3 linked regions of the Homo sapiens genome follow. The protein of the gene in region 1 purifies or fractionates together with the protein of each later gene. This does not show direct contact. Each region holds a gene or a part of one and is shown in the gene's direction. Other genes may lie near its edges. The genes, in order: EIF3M, USP34 and ANKHD1.

What was found.
Region 2: the proteins of EIF3M (region 1) and USP34 purify together in Homo sapiens (affinity purification with mass spectrometry; 3 studies listed by BioGRID and IntAct, with this or other methods). This does not show direct contact.
Region 3: the proteins of EIF3M (region 1) and ANKHD1 fractionate together in Homo sapiens (co-fractionation; one large-scale study listed by BioGRID). This does not show direct contact.

What each region holds. Positions count from the first base shown.
Region 1 is NC_000011.10:32,593,767-32,597,420, forward strand, and holds part of EIF3M (eukaryotic translation initiation factor 3 subunit M), read left to right. Parts: intron 1-99; coding exon 100-183; intron 184-1,147; coding exon 1,148-1,247; intron 1,248-2,199; coding exon 2,200-2,281; intron 2,282-3,654. UniProt on the Homo sapiens protein: Component of the eukaryotic translation initiation factor 3 (eIF-3) complex, which is required for several steps in the initiation of protein synthesis.
Region 2 is NC_000002.12:61,464,497-61,468,150, reverse strand, and holds part of USP34 (ubiquitin carboxyl-terminal hydrolase 34), read left to right. Parts: intron 1-3,654. UniProt on the Homo sapiens protein: Ubiquitin hydrolase that can remove conjugated ubiquitin from AXIN1 and AXIN2, thereby acting as a regulator of Wnt signaling pathway.
Region 3 is NC_000005.10:140,408,253-140,411,906, forward strand, and holds part of ANKHD1 (ankyrin repeat and KH domain-containing protein 1), read left to right. Parts: intron 1-3,654. UniProt on the Homo sapiens protein: May play a role as a scaffolding protein that may be associated with the abnormal phenotype of leukemia cells. Isoform 2 may possess an antiapoptotic effect and protect cells during normal cell survival through its regulation of caspases.

The sequences.
Region 1 (3,654 bases):
GTTATAATGTCATCAGCACAGTACCTGCCTCTTAAAAATATTTTAAATGAATGAATAGCAGTAATGCTTTCAAGTTCCTAAAGCAATATTTCTTTTTAGTGATGCTGCTTCAAAAGTCATGGTGGAATTGCTCGGAAGTTACACAGAGGACAATGCTTCCCAGGCTCGAGTTGATGCCCACAGGTAATGTTAAACGTTACTCTGATGAGGGTTTGACAGCGATGTAGAGGTAAGCTACAATATTAAATTAAGTAACTGAAATCATGTTTGCAACTACCAGTGATCCAGAGCCATTTGATAGTGTGTATTTCCTGGTGATTCTAATGTAGATACTAAAATTCAAGGTTTGATATTGGAAGAACTGTGGATTGAATATGAAGTAGCTGCATGGCGTTTACCTGGCGGGGGGGGTATTGCTGGTATGGGGATGATGATCCCAACCCAAGAATTAGAACCTAATCTTGGGCCAATTGACCCTAATTTTAAGGTTATAGGTGGAAAGTTGATGGCTTGCCAAAAATTAACCCATTGCTAATGAGTATAAGGGCTTTTAACAGTCTTAGATCTAACTGGTAACAAGAATAGAATCAGTTTTCTAAATCTATGTAATAAGGATTATGAAACTTCTTTTTTTGGTCATTGCTTTGTGTGGACCTCTACATGATAGGAGTTGGTAAAAAGGGAAGTTGGTGGTAAAGATCCTTGACTTTGAGGTCAGGCTGCCTCCATTCACATTCTTACTCCACCTCTTAATGAGCACTTCTGAACTGCTTCATAGTTGATAAAGGGGGCAGAGTAATACTGTTTGTCTCCTAGGTTGTTGTGAGGAATAAATGAGATGTAAGGCAAGTGAAGCACTTAGTGTCTTGGCATGTGGTTCTGCTGCTGCTTACTATTTGATTACCTTGGTGCTTTCTCTCCAGCTATGTTTTTATCTACAATTAATATATTTCATTTTGTTAAAACAGATGAACCTGATAAATGTGTTGGCCTGTCTTAACCCAATCCTGTAGCTTTTTTAATGTTGTTTATATGTTTTGGACTGTTAGATATTTTGCCGAATTAAGTATATTTTATGATCTGCAAAAACTCAATGAAAAGCCAGGATTTCAAAACCCTGAGCTTACATTTTTGTTCTCTAATTAAGGTGTATTGTACGAGCATTGAAAGATCCAAATGCATTTCTTTTTGACCACCTTCTTACTTTAAAACCAGTCAAGTTTTTGGAAGGCGAGCTTATTCATGATGTAAGTAGTTTATCCTTTAATGTGAAAAATGTTCTCCTTTCCTAAATTTTACATACTGAAGCAGGACTCTTTTTCTTTGCATTAATAAAAGTGACTAATGGCAAGATATGGAAAGATTAAGAACTATGTATTCTTTTTATATCAGGAACAGACATATTTAGGACCAGCTTTTCTTCATCCACTGAGCAGAGTCCTATTCTTCCTCCCTTTCTTAATTTCTTTTTTTTTTTTGAGACTGAGTCTCACTCTGTCACCAGGCTGGAGTGCGGTGGCATGATCTTGGCTCACTGCAACCTCTGCCTCCCTGATTTAAGCAATTCTCCTGCCTCAGCTTCCAGGAGAAGTAGCTGGGATTACAGGCACATGCCATCAGGCCCAGCTAATTTTTGTATTTTTAGTAGATACAGAGTTTTGCCATGTTGGTCTGGTCTCCGACTCCTGACCCCCCTGACCCCAAATGATCTGCCCACTTCGGCCTCCCAGAGTGCTGGGATTACAGGCGTGAGCCACTGTGCCCGGCTACCTCCCTTTCTTTCATCTTCTCACTTACTCATCATTATAGACTTAGATAATACAAGTTTCTTTTTTATTACATATATATTGTTCCTAGCCCCACTTAGGAATATAAGTCTGATATTTAAAAACACATGAACATTTTTCAAATGCAAGTATAAATATATTTTGGACTGTTGTGCATCTGGACTATGCCATTAGCCATCATCTTTCAGTGTGGATAATTTAGAGCTCAGTGTATTTACTGATTATTTCATTTTAAAAGTGAGCCATGTGAAAGCAGATGGTTTGGTAATTTGATGAAACAGAATGATATTTCTGCCTTGAACAAAATGTAGGAGTCAGTATCTTTAAAATAATATTTACAATATCTTAGAATATCTTACAATAAATCTGAATTCTGTATTGATGGTATCTTTTTTGTCTCTTATCTGTATAGCTTTTAACCATTTTTGTGAGTGCTAAATTGGCATCATATGTCAAGTTTTATCAGAATAATAAAGACTTCATTGATTCACTTGGTAAGTTTTGGGGTTTATTCTTTGAGGCACAGAGGTGGGAACATGATACACTAACAGTTATGTACTATGTGTTCCAGCAAGTATGGCTGTGGCCTTATTTGTAGATTATCCTAAAAGGAGTCGTGTATGATAGAACAGCACAAAAATAGGTAGACAGTTTAAAATATTACTTAGAATGAATTGAGAATCAGAAACCAAGAAGGTGTAGGAGGTGGCATTTGTGATAGAAAGAGAATGAAACTGGGAGTATGAAAACAACTCGGGGCCCAGCGCGGTGGCTTAGAGGTATAATCCCAGCACTTTGGAGGCCGAGGCGGGCGGATCACGAGGTCAGGAGGTCGAGACCATCTTGGCTGACTAACATGGTGAAACCCTGTCTCTACTAAAAATACAAAAAATTAGCCGGGCGCGGTGGCGGGTGCCCGTAGTCCCAGCTACTTGAGAGGCTGAGGCAGGAGAATAGCTTGAACCCGGGAGATGGAGGCGGAGGTTGCAGTGAGCCAAGACTGTGCCACTGCACTCCAGCCTCGGCAACAGAGCAAGAGTCTGTCTCAAAAAAAAAAAAAAAAAAAAGAAAGAAAAGAAAACAACTTAGCACTTGTAATCCCAGCACTTTGGGAGGATGAGGTGGGTGGATCACTTGAGGTCAGGAGTTCAAGACCAGCCTGGCCAACATGGCAAAACCCCATTTCTACTAAAAATACAAAAATTAGTGGGCATGGTGGCACATACCTGTAGTGCCAACTACTCAGGAGCCTTAGGCAAGAGAACCACTTGAACCCGGGAGGCAGAGGTTGCAGTGAGTTCAGATCACACTGCTGCACTCCAGCCTGGATGACAGAGTGAGGCTCCATCTCAAAAAACAAAAAAAAAAGAGAGAGAAAATGACTTGGAACCTTTTTGTCTCATTTAAGAGCTTGCTGAACTTTAGGCCCTTCCAGCTCTTCTGTACCATGATTCTTTGAGGTAAAGTTATATCAACAATCGGGTGTTTGGAGAAGATTGAAGAAATAGTTCCATTGGTACATTTGTTTTTAAAATTTAGAGATGGAGGAGTGAGCAGAAAAGCAACTGAAAGAATTACCATTACTTTGATCATAATGGTAACTTTCAGAAATGTTTTAAGAGCTGATAAAATTTGATGATTAAAGGTACTTTATTAAGCTAAACATTATTCTTAAAATAATATTGTTTCTTTGTAGAAGACTTTATTCCTTAGATATATGGTGATTTGTATTTTTGGTCCCTTTTTTTAAGCCATAGCCACAGAATGGTAACAAATAGTTTTTTCCCCCCTACTATACTATTTTATGCTTGGATACCCCCGCCATTAACAAATTACAAAAGTATATAGTATTGCCAGTTAGATCTGA
Region 2 (3,654 bases), on another chromosome or scaffold:
TTAAAAGTTGTTTTTTTTTCTGTAGTTCTTTGCTTATCCGTGGCTATGATGGAGCATGATAATGAACATGAGTGGTTGGAGCTTGATAAAACTTGTTGAAGTAGATTATATGTGTTTCTTGTGATCTCATTTGCAGTAATTACCTATAAAGTCTGCCCTTTTCCCGCCTGTACCTTGTACAAAGATGAGCATCAGTTCAACGTTGATTTAGAAATTCAGAGTTGGCCGGGCAACTCTGAATACAGCTCACGCCTGTATTCCCAACACTTTGGGAGGCCGAGGTGGGCGGATCACAAGGTCAGGAGCTCGAGACCAGCCTGGCCAATATGGTGAAACCCCATCTCTACTAAAAATTCACCAATTAGCCGGGTGTGGTGGTGTAGGCATCTGTAGTCCCAGCTACTTGGGAGGCTGAGGCAGGAGAATTGCTTGAACCCTGGTAGGCGGAGGTTGCAGTGAGCCGAGATCATGCCACTGCACTCCAGCCTCGGCCACAGAACAAGACTCCATCTCAAAAAAAAAAAAAAAAAAAACAAAGTTACAGTCCTCCCAAAATGTGCTCAGAATTCATCTTTAAATACGACACCCTGTAACAGTTTAGCCAGCTGAGAGAAGCAATAAAATTGTGCATATTTTTGGGTGGTGTGTTTCCAGGTCATGCTGAAAAATACGTAATTAGTATTAAAGCAACCTCACAAAACAGTCAGACGTGGTGGTGCGCCCCTGTAATCCCGCCTCGGCAGGAGGCTGAGGCAGGAGGATTGTTTGAGGCCAGGAGTTCGAGACCAGCGTGGGCAACATAGTAAGACTGCTTTTTTTATTATTATTATTTTTTTATTTTTTATTTGGAGACAGAATCTCGCTGTGTCACCCAGGCTGGAGTGCAGTGGCACGGTTTCGGCTCACTACAACCTCTGCCTCCCTGGGTTCAGCAATTCTCCTGCCTCAGCCTCCCAAGTGGCTGGGATTACAGGCACACGTCACCATGCCCAGCTAATTTTTGTATTTTTAGTAGAAACGGGGTTTCACCATATTGGCCAGGCTGGTCTGAACTCCTTACCGTGTGATCTACCCGCTTCCGTCTCCCAAAATGCTAGGATTACAGGCGTGAGCCACCGCGCCTGGCCAAGACTGCTGTCTTGAAAAAACAAACCAAAAACACTGTTTCTTGTGAAATTAACAAACAGTGATCACACTTAGAGAAGGCTACCTGGGCAAACGAGTGTAATAAATTTTTTTTTTTTTTTTTGACACGGAGTCTAACTCTCACCCAGGCTGGAATGCAGTGTCGGCTAGCTGCAACCTCCACCTCCCGGATTCAAGTGATTCTTCTGCCTCAGCCTCCTGAGTAACTGAGACTACAGGCACCCGCCTCCTTGCCTGGCTAATTTTTGTATTTTTAGTAGAGGTGGGATTTTGCCATGTTGGCCAGGCTTGTCTCAAACTCCTGACCTCAGGGGATCTGCCTGCCTGTACCTCCCAAAGTGCTGCAATTACAGGAGTGAGCCAGCATGCCTGGCCTAAAAATTTTGTTTAAAAAATTTTTAGTTGATAAATAATAATTTTACATATTCATGGTGTACATAGTGATGTTTCAATACATAAAACGTATAGTGATCAGTTGAAGTTAATTAGTATATCCATCTCAAACATTTAGCATTTGCTTTGGGAACATTCAGTATCCTCCTAGCTATTTGAAACTGTATCATATATTATTGTTTTTTTGAGATAGGGTTTCTTTCCCATTGCCCAGGCTGGAGTGCAGTGGTATGCTCTTGGGTCACTACAGCCTCCGCTTCCTGGGCTTAAGCAATCCTCCTGCCACATCCTCCCAAGTAGCTGGGACTACAGGCATGTGCCACCAAGCCCGGCTAATTTTTGTATTTTTAGTAGAGATGGGGTTTCACCACGTTGGCCAGGCTGGTCTTGAACTCTTGAACTCAAGTGATCTGCCCGCCTTGGCCTCCCAAAGTGCTGGGATTATAGGCATGAGCCACCATGCCCGGCTTGTATCATATATTATTGTTAACCGTAGTCATTCTGTAGTAGTACTTATTCCTTCTATCTCACTGTAATTTTATATTCTTTAACAAATCTCTCCCTATCCCTCCCCTCCCTCTACCATTCCCAGCAAATTTTGTTGTGTTTTTGTTTATTTTATTTTATTTTTTTTTGAGACAGAGTCTTGTTCTGTCACCCAGGCTGGAGTGCAGTGGCGCCATCTCTGCTCACTGCAAGCTCCGCCTCCCGGGTTCACGCCATTCTCCTGACTCAGCTTCCCGAGGAGCTGGAACTACAGGCGCCCGCTACCACGCCCGGCTAATTTTTTGTATATTTAGTAGAGATGGGGTTTCACCATGTTGGCCAGGATGGTCTCGATCTCTTGACCTCGTGATCCACCTGCCTCGGCCTCCCAAAGTGCTGGCATTACAGGCGTGAGCCACCGTGCCTAGCCGTGTTTTTGTTTATTAATAGAGACAGGGCCTTGCATTGTTGCCCAGGCTGGTCTCAAACTCCTGGTCTGAAGCCATTCTCCTGCCTCAGCCTCCCCAAGTACTGGAATTACAGGCATGAGCTACCATGCCTGGCCAGTTAATTGTGTTTTAAATGAAAGGGTAGACACAAGTGTGGGTAGTATAGCTTTGTATTAGATATGCACAGACTTTTTGATAAGAGTAAGGACTTAATGTGGAATGTTTAAAGTTTGGCAGAATGCAGTATCGTTAAAAGTAACAGATTATGAACAGTTCGTTTTGTCATCAGTTTTTGGTGAGAGTATTAATATTATTAGTTATACCTCTAGTCCTGAGAATCTGAAGCTGTAAACTTTCACTGTGGAAACATGCAGAGGCATACAGACACAGAATTGTGCTTACAGGTTGAGGACCCGTTGAAGTTTGTTCCTGGAACCAGACTAAGGATCCTATCATAAGTACCCTTGCCCCACCACACCCACCCTTTTTAAATATAATCTTGACACATATCATAAAAGTTGAAACTACATTTCAAAATCATATTTGGCTTTAGTGTTAGAATAACCAATCCCAACAATACTAAAATACTGGACTTGCCATTTTCTTTTCATGCTTCATTTTAAAAACATTTAAAAAGCTTGGATGTATTGAGTAAATTTTGCTGTTATCATTTTGTGGGATTACATTCTGTTTAGGATAAATTTTAAATTTCTGTTCCTCTGCTTGTTCTGTTGAGTTTGTCTGATAACTGCTTTTGTAGTTACTTTTGTGAACCAGTTTACAAAGGCCAAAGCATTTCTAGATCTTGGTGAGGAGTTGGAGGCTTAAAATTACATGCTTTAGGCCATCACCATAGCAAACTCACTAGTAAACTGAGGTTATTTACCTCGTAAGGTAAATTTCTCTGAAAGCAGAGTGAAAATTACATAGTACCTCTTTTTTTTTTTTTTTTTTTTTTTGAGACGGAGTCTCGCTCTTTCGCCCAGGCTGGAGTGCAGTGGTGCGATCTTGGGCTCACTGCAACCTCCGCCTCCTGGGACTACAGGCGTGAGCCACCACGCCTGGTGTACGTCATTGTTTTAAACCACTTATGTGTTGTAGATTTTACTCTGTGTATTCGTTTGGTGGGTTATAGTTTACCAAGTTGTCCAAAATGGATAATTCATGTGAGATAGGCAAG
Region 3 (3,654 bases), on another chromosome or scaffold:
AGGGGAAAAGTAAAAGTGCTTCTTCCCACCCCCATTAATTCTTCAAATTCTACCCTTCAAGGTAACCAATATTAAAATTTTTCATTCAGTAAATTTTCTAGGCCTATCTTTCTATGTATATATGTATATATGTTCATATACACATACTTTAAAGGCATATCAAATTTAAAAGTGTAGCTTTATATCACACTGAGGTTTTTTTCTTGAAGCAGGTGCTGTATTTACAATTATATAAAAGCACGCAGAAATTGTATTTAGCTCTGAAAATATAGCACAAGCTTTGTAGGGATTCCTTTTTCCCTGAAAATTACTTTTAACATCAAAAGCAAAAGTCATACAGAAATCCCATCCTGATTTTCTCCAGTAGGTAAGGAGTTGGGTCATATCCTTTAAGATTGTTTATGATCTATATATAATCTGTTTTTTAATTTTTAATTAAATTTTTTTTACCGTTATGTGTTTTGAGAGATGGGGGTCTCGCTTTTTTGCCCAGGCTGGCTGTTGCCCTGGCTACACAGTGCGGTGGCATGGTCATAACTCTATGTGGTCTCCCACTCCTGGGCTCAAGCAATCCTTCTGCTTCAGCCTCCCAAGTAGTCAGGACTACAGGGGACTATAGGTGTGCACCACAATACTTGGCTAGTATGATCTATAATCTAGAGCAGTTTCTCAAGAGCAACATATAGACATTTTGGGACAGAGAATTCTTTGTTGTGAGGGGCTCTCCTGTGCATTAGAAGCATCCCTGGCCTCTACCCACTAGATGCCAGTAGAACCCGATTATGATAGCCAAAAATTGTTCAGACGTTGCCAAATGTCTCCTAGGGACAAAATCACTCCTGGTTGAGAGCTACCGGTCTAGAGGCCACTCTTGTCAGGAATGGTAGTTTTGTTATACTCTGTATTCAAACTTAAGGTAAACAAGGTGAGTCACTGCTTTTAATAGCATTTCAGGACTTATGCTTATAACCTGAACAAGGGAGAAATAGAAGGTACTGAAAGGTTTAATATAAAACTAGCATGCACTGCTGTAAATTTTCTATGGTAAATGTATCATTTTGGGGAACTTTCACTTAAAATATATTATTTTTCAAAAAGTTCAGTTGTCCATGAAAATGAATTTTTAAAAAACTTTTATGGGGACTTCCAGTTTGTTCAAAGTAGAAATGCTTTATTCCATAAATTATCATTTGTAGTGATAACATAGGAAATATAACTTTGTATTCTAGTGGGCTAATTTTGGAGACTTTGGAAATGCTTATTGAATAAAAAGAATTATATGTTATTACTGTAACAATTTTTTTTTTTTTTTTTTGAGTCAGAGGAGCCTTGCTCTGTCACCCAGGCTGGAGTGCAGTGGCAGGATCTCGGCTCACTGCAGCCTCCACCTCCTGGGTTCAAGTGATTCTCCTGCCTCAGCCTCCTGAGTAGCTGGGACTACAGGCCCGTGCCACCACGCTCGGCTAATTTTTTGTATTTTTAGTAGAGACGGTGTTTCACTGTGTTACCCAGGATGGTCTCGGTCTCCTGACCTTGTGATCCACCCGCCTCAGCCTCCCAAAGTGCTGGGATTACAGGTGTGAGCCACCGCGCCCAGCCACAATTTTTTGTATGTTGCACAAATATCAACCTTTCACAAGCTTCATGATGTAAAGCCTTAAGACTTTACATATAAAATGATGCATTGATAAGTATATTTATGTGAATGGTGGGGTTGATGCAGAGTTGATTAGTATGGGTGGAGGAAAACTTTTTGGGAAACTTTAAGTATGAGAGGTTTTTGTTGTTATTAGTATATTTTCAATAGATAATTACATTCATATAGTTCATAAGTCAAAGTAATATAAGGGCAGATACAGTGAAGTCTCAATCTCACCCTGCTCCCACATATCTTGCTCTTTATACTTTTAATAAAAGTATTATATAGCCTTTCAGAATTTCTTTATGAAAATACAACTATGTGTATTTTCCCTACTGTTACACAGATGGTAAGATGCTATTTATGTGAAATTTTTAAATGGTAAATTTGAGAAGGATTTAGACTTTTTTAAAAAATTAAAGTGATAAATTATGTTATGAATGAAGGATGGAGGTGAGTTTAAGCACATTCCTTTCTGAGTCTATTTGTTAGTAGAGTGCTGATTGACTAGATGAATTCAAAATCAGTTCTGGCCTTCTGATTCAGTGATCACTAATATAAATAAAATATGTTACTTTAAAGAAAAGCAAAACAGTTTTAAACAGTTTTAGCCTTGAATTGGCAAGTAAACAAAATAAATGACAAGTTTACCAAATTTTTTTTTTTGGCCAAATTTACTTTCTCAGAACTAAAGTTGTAATAAATAAAATCAATTCTTTTTTTAAACCCACTATAAAGGAACTGTTTCAATGTATCTGTCTTCACAGACCTTATTGATCACATTTCCCTCTCCTATTGCTTGTCTATAGAGTCATAGAATCTTGGTGATAATCCTATCTCATCTCATTTTTAGGTAACTGCTACCATTTATTGAATGCTTATTATATACCAGTACCGTACTAGATACTTTCGTTATTTTATTTAATCGTTTCATCACCCCTTTGAGGTAGGTATTATCTACATTTTTATAGATGAATAAGTGTAGGCTCAGAGAGTTTTTAGAGTAATGAATCTAAAAAACAAAAAAATGGTTAAAATGTTATATGGCTAGTGACTGGTAAAGGTGGGATTTGAATGTGATACTGAATTTAGAGCCCATACTGTTATTTTGCTTCAAATTAAGAAATATGTAGTTTTTGGTTACCAAATGCTGTTTTTTAAATAAATCATTGTTTAGTTCCTATTGAAGTTTTCACAGATGTAAAGTAAAATGGAGAAAATAAGCAGGATGTAGTGAATTTCTAATGAAGCTATTTTTTCCCACTTTTTTCTATTTTGACAAATACTCTTCCTACTTTTACAAAATGAATTTTTAAAACTATCTGTACTTAACAGAATATCAACTGGAAACTTCATTTGGGACCCTGGATAAAAGCCTCAGAAGTCTGGGAACTGTTGAGCTAAATGACTTGCCCAGATCACACAGTTAATATGTAGCAGTCAAGACTGAAAAATAGGCCATCTGATTCCCATTCTAGTTATCCTACCTTCCAGATTCTCCTAACTTTCTTTTGATGCATTATATTAATGAGTTTAATTAGTTGCTTATAAATGCCTCTTTCAAACTATTATAGTTTATAATCCATAGTTGATCTTGTTGGAAAAGTTTTTTTTTTTTTTTGGCTGTTTTTTTTTTGGTTTGTTTGAGAACGGAGTCTCACTCTGTTGCCCAGGCTGGAGTGTAATGGTGCAATCTTGGCTCACTGCAACCTCTGCCTCCCGAGTTCAAGCAATTCTCCTGCCTCAGCCTCCTGAGTAGCTGGGATTATAGGCGGCCACCACCATACCCAGCTAATTTTTTTTTGTATTTTTAGTAGAGATGGGGTTTCACCATGTTGGCCAGGCTGGTCTCGAACTCCTGACCTCAGACTATCTGCCCACCTCAGCCTCCCAAAGTGCTGGGATTATAGGCTTGAGCCACTGTGCCTGGCCTTTTTTTAAATTTTTTTTTTTTTGAGACAGGGTCCCGTTATGTCACCCAAGCTGGAGTGCGGTGGTGCAGGAGTGCAGTGGCT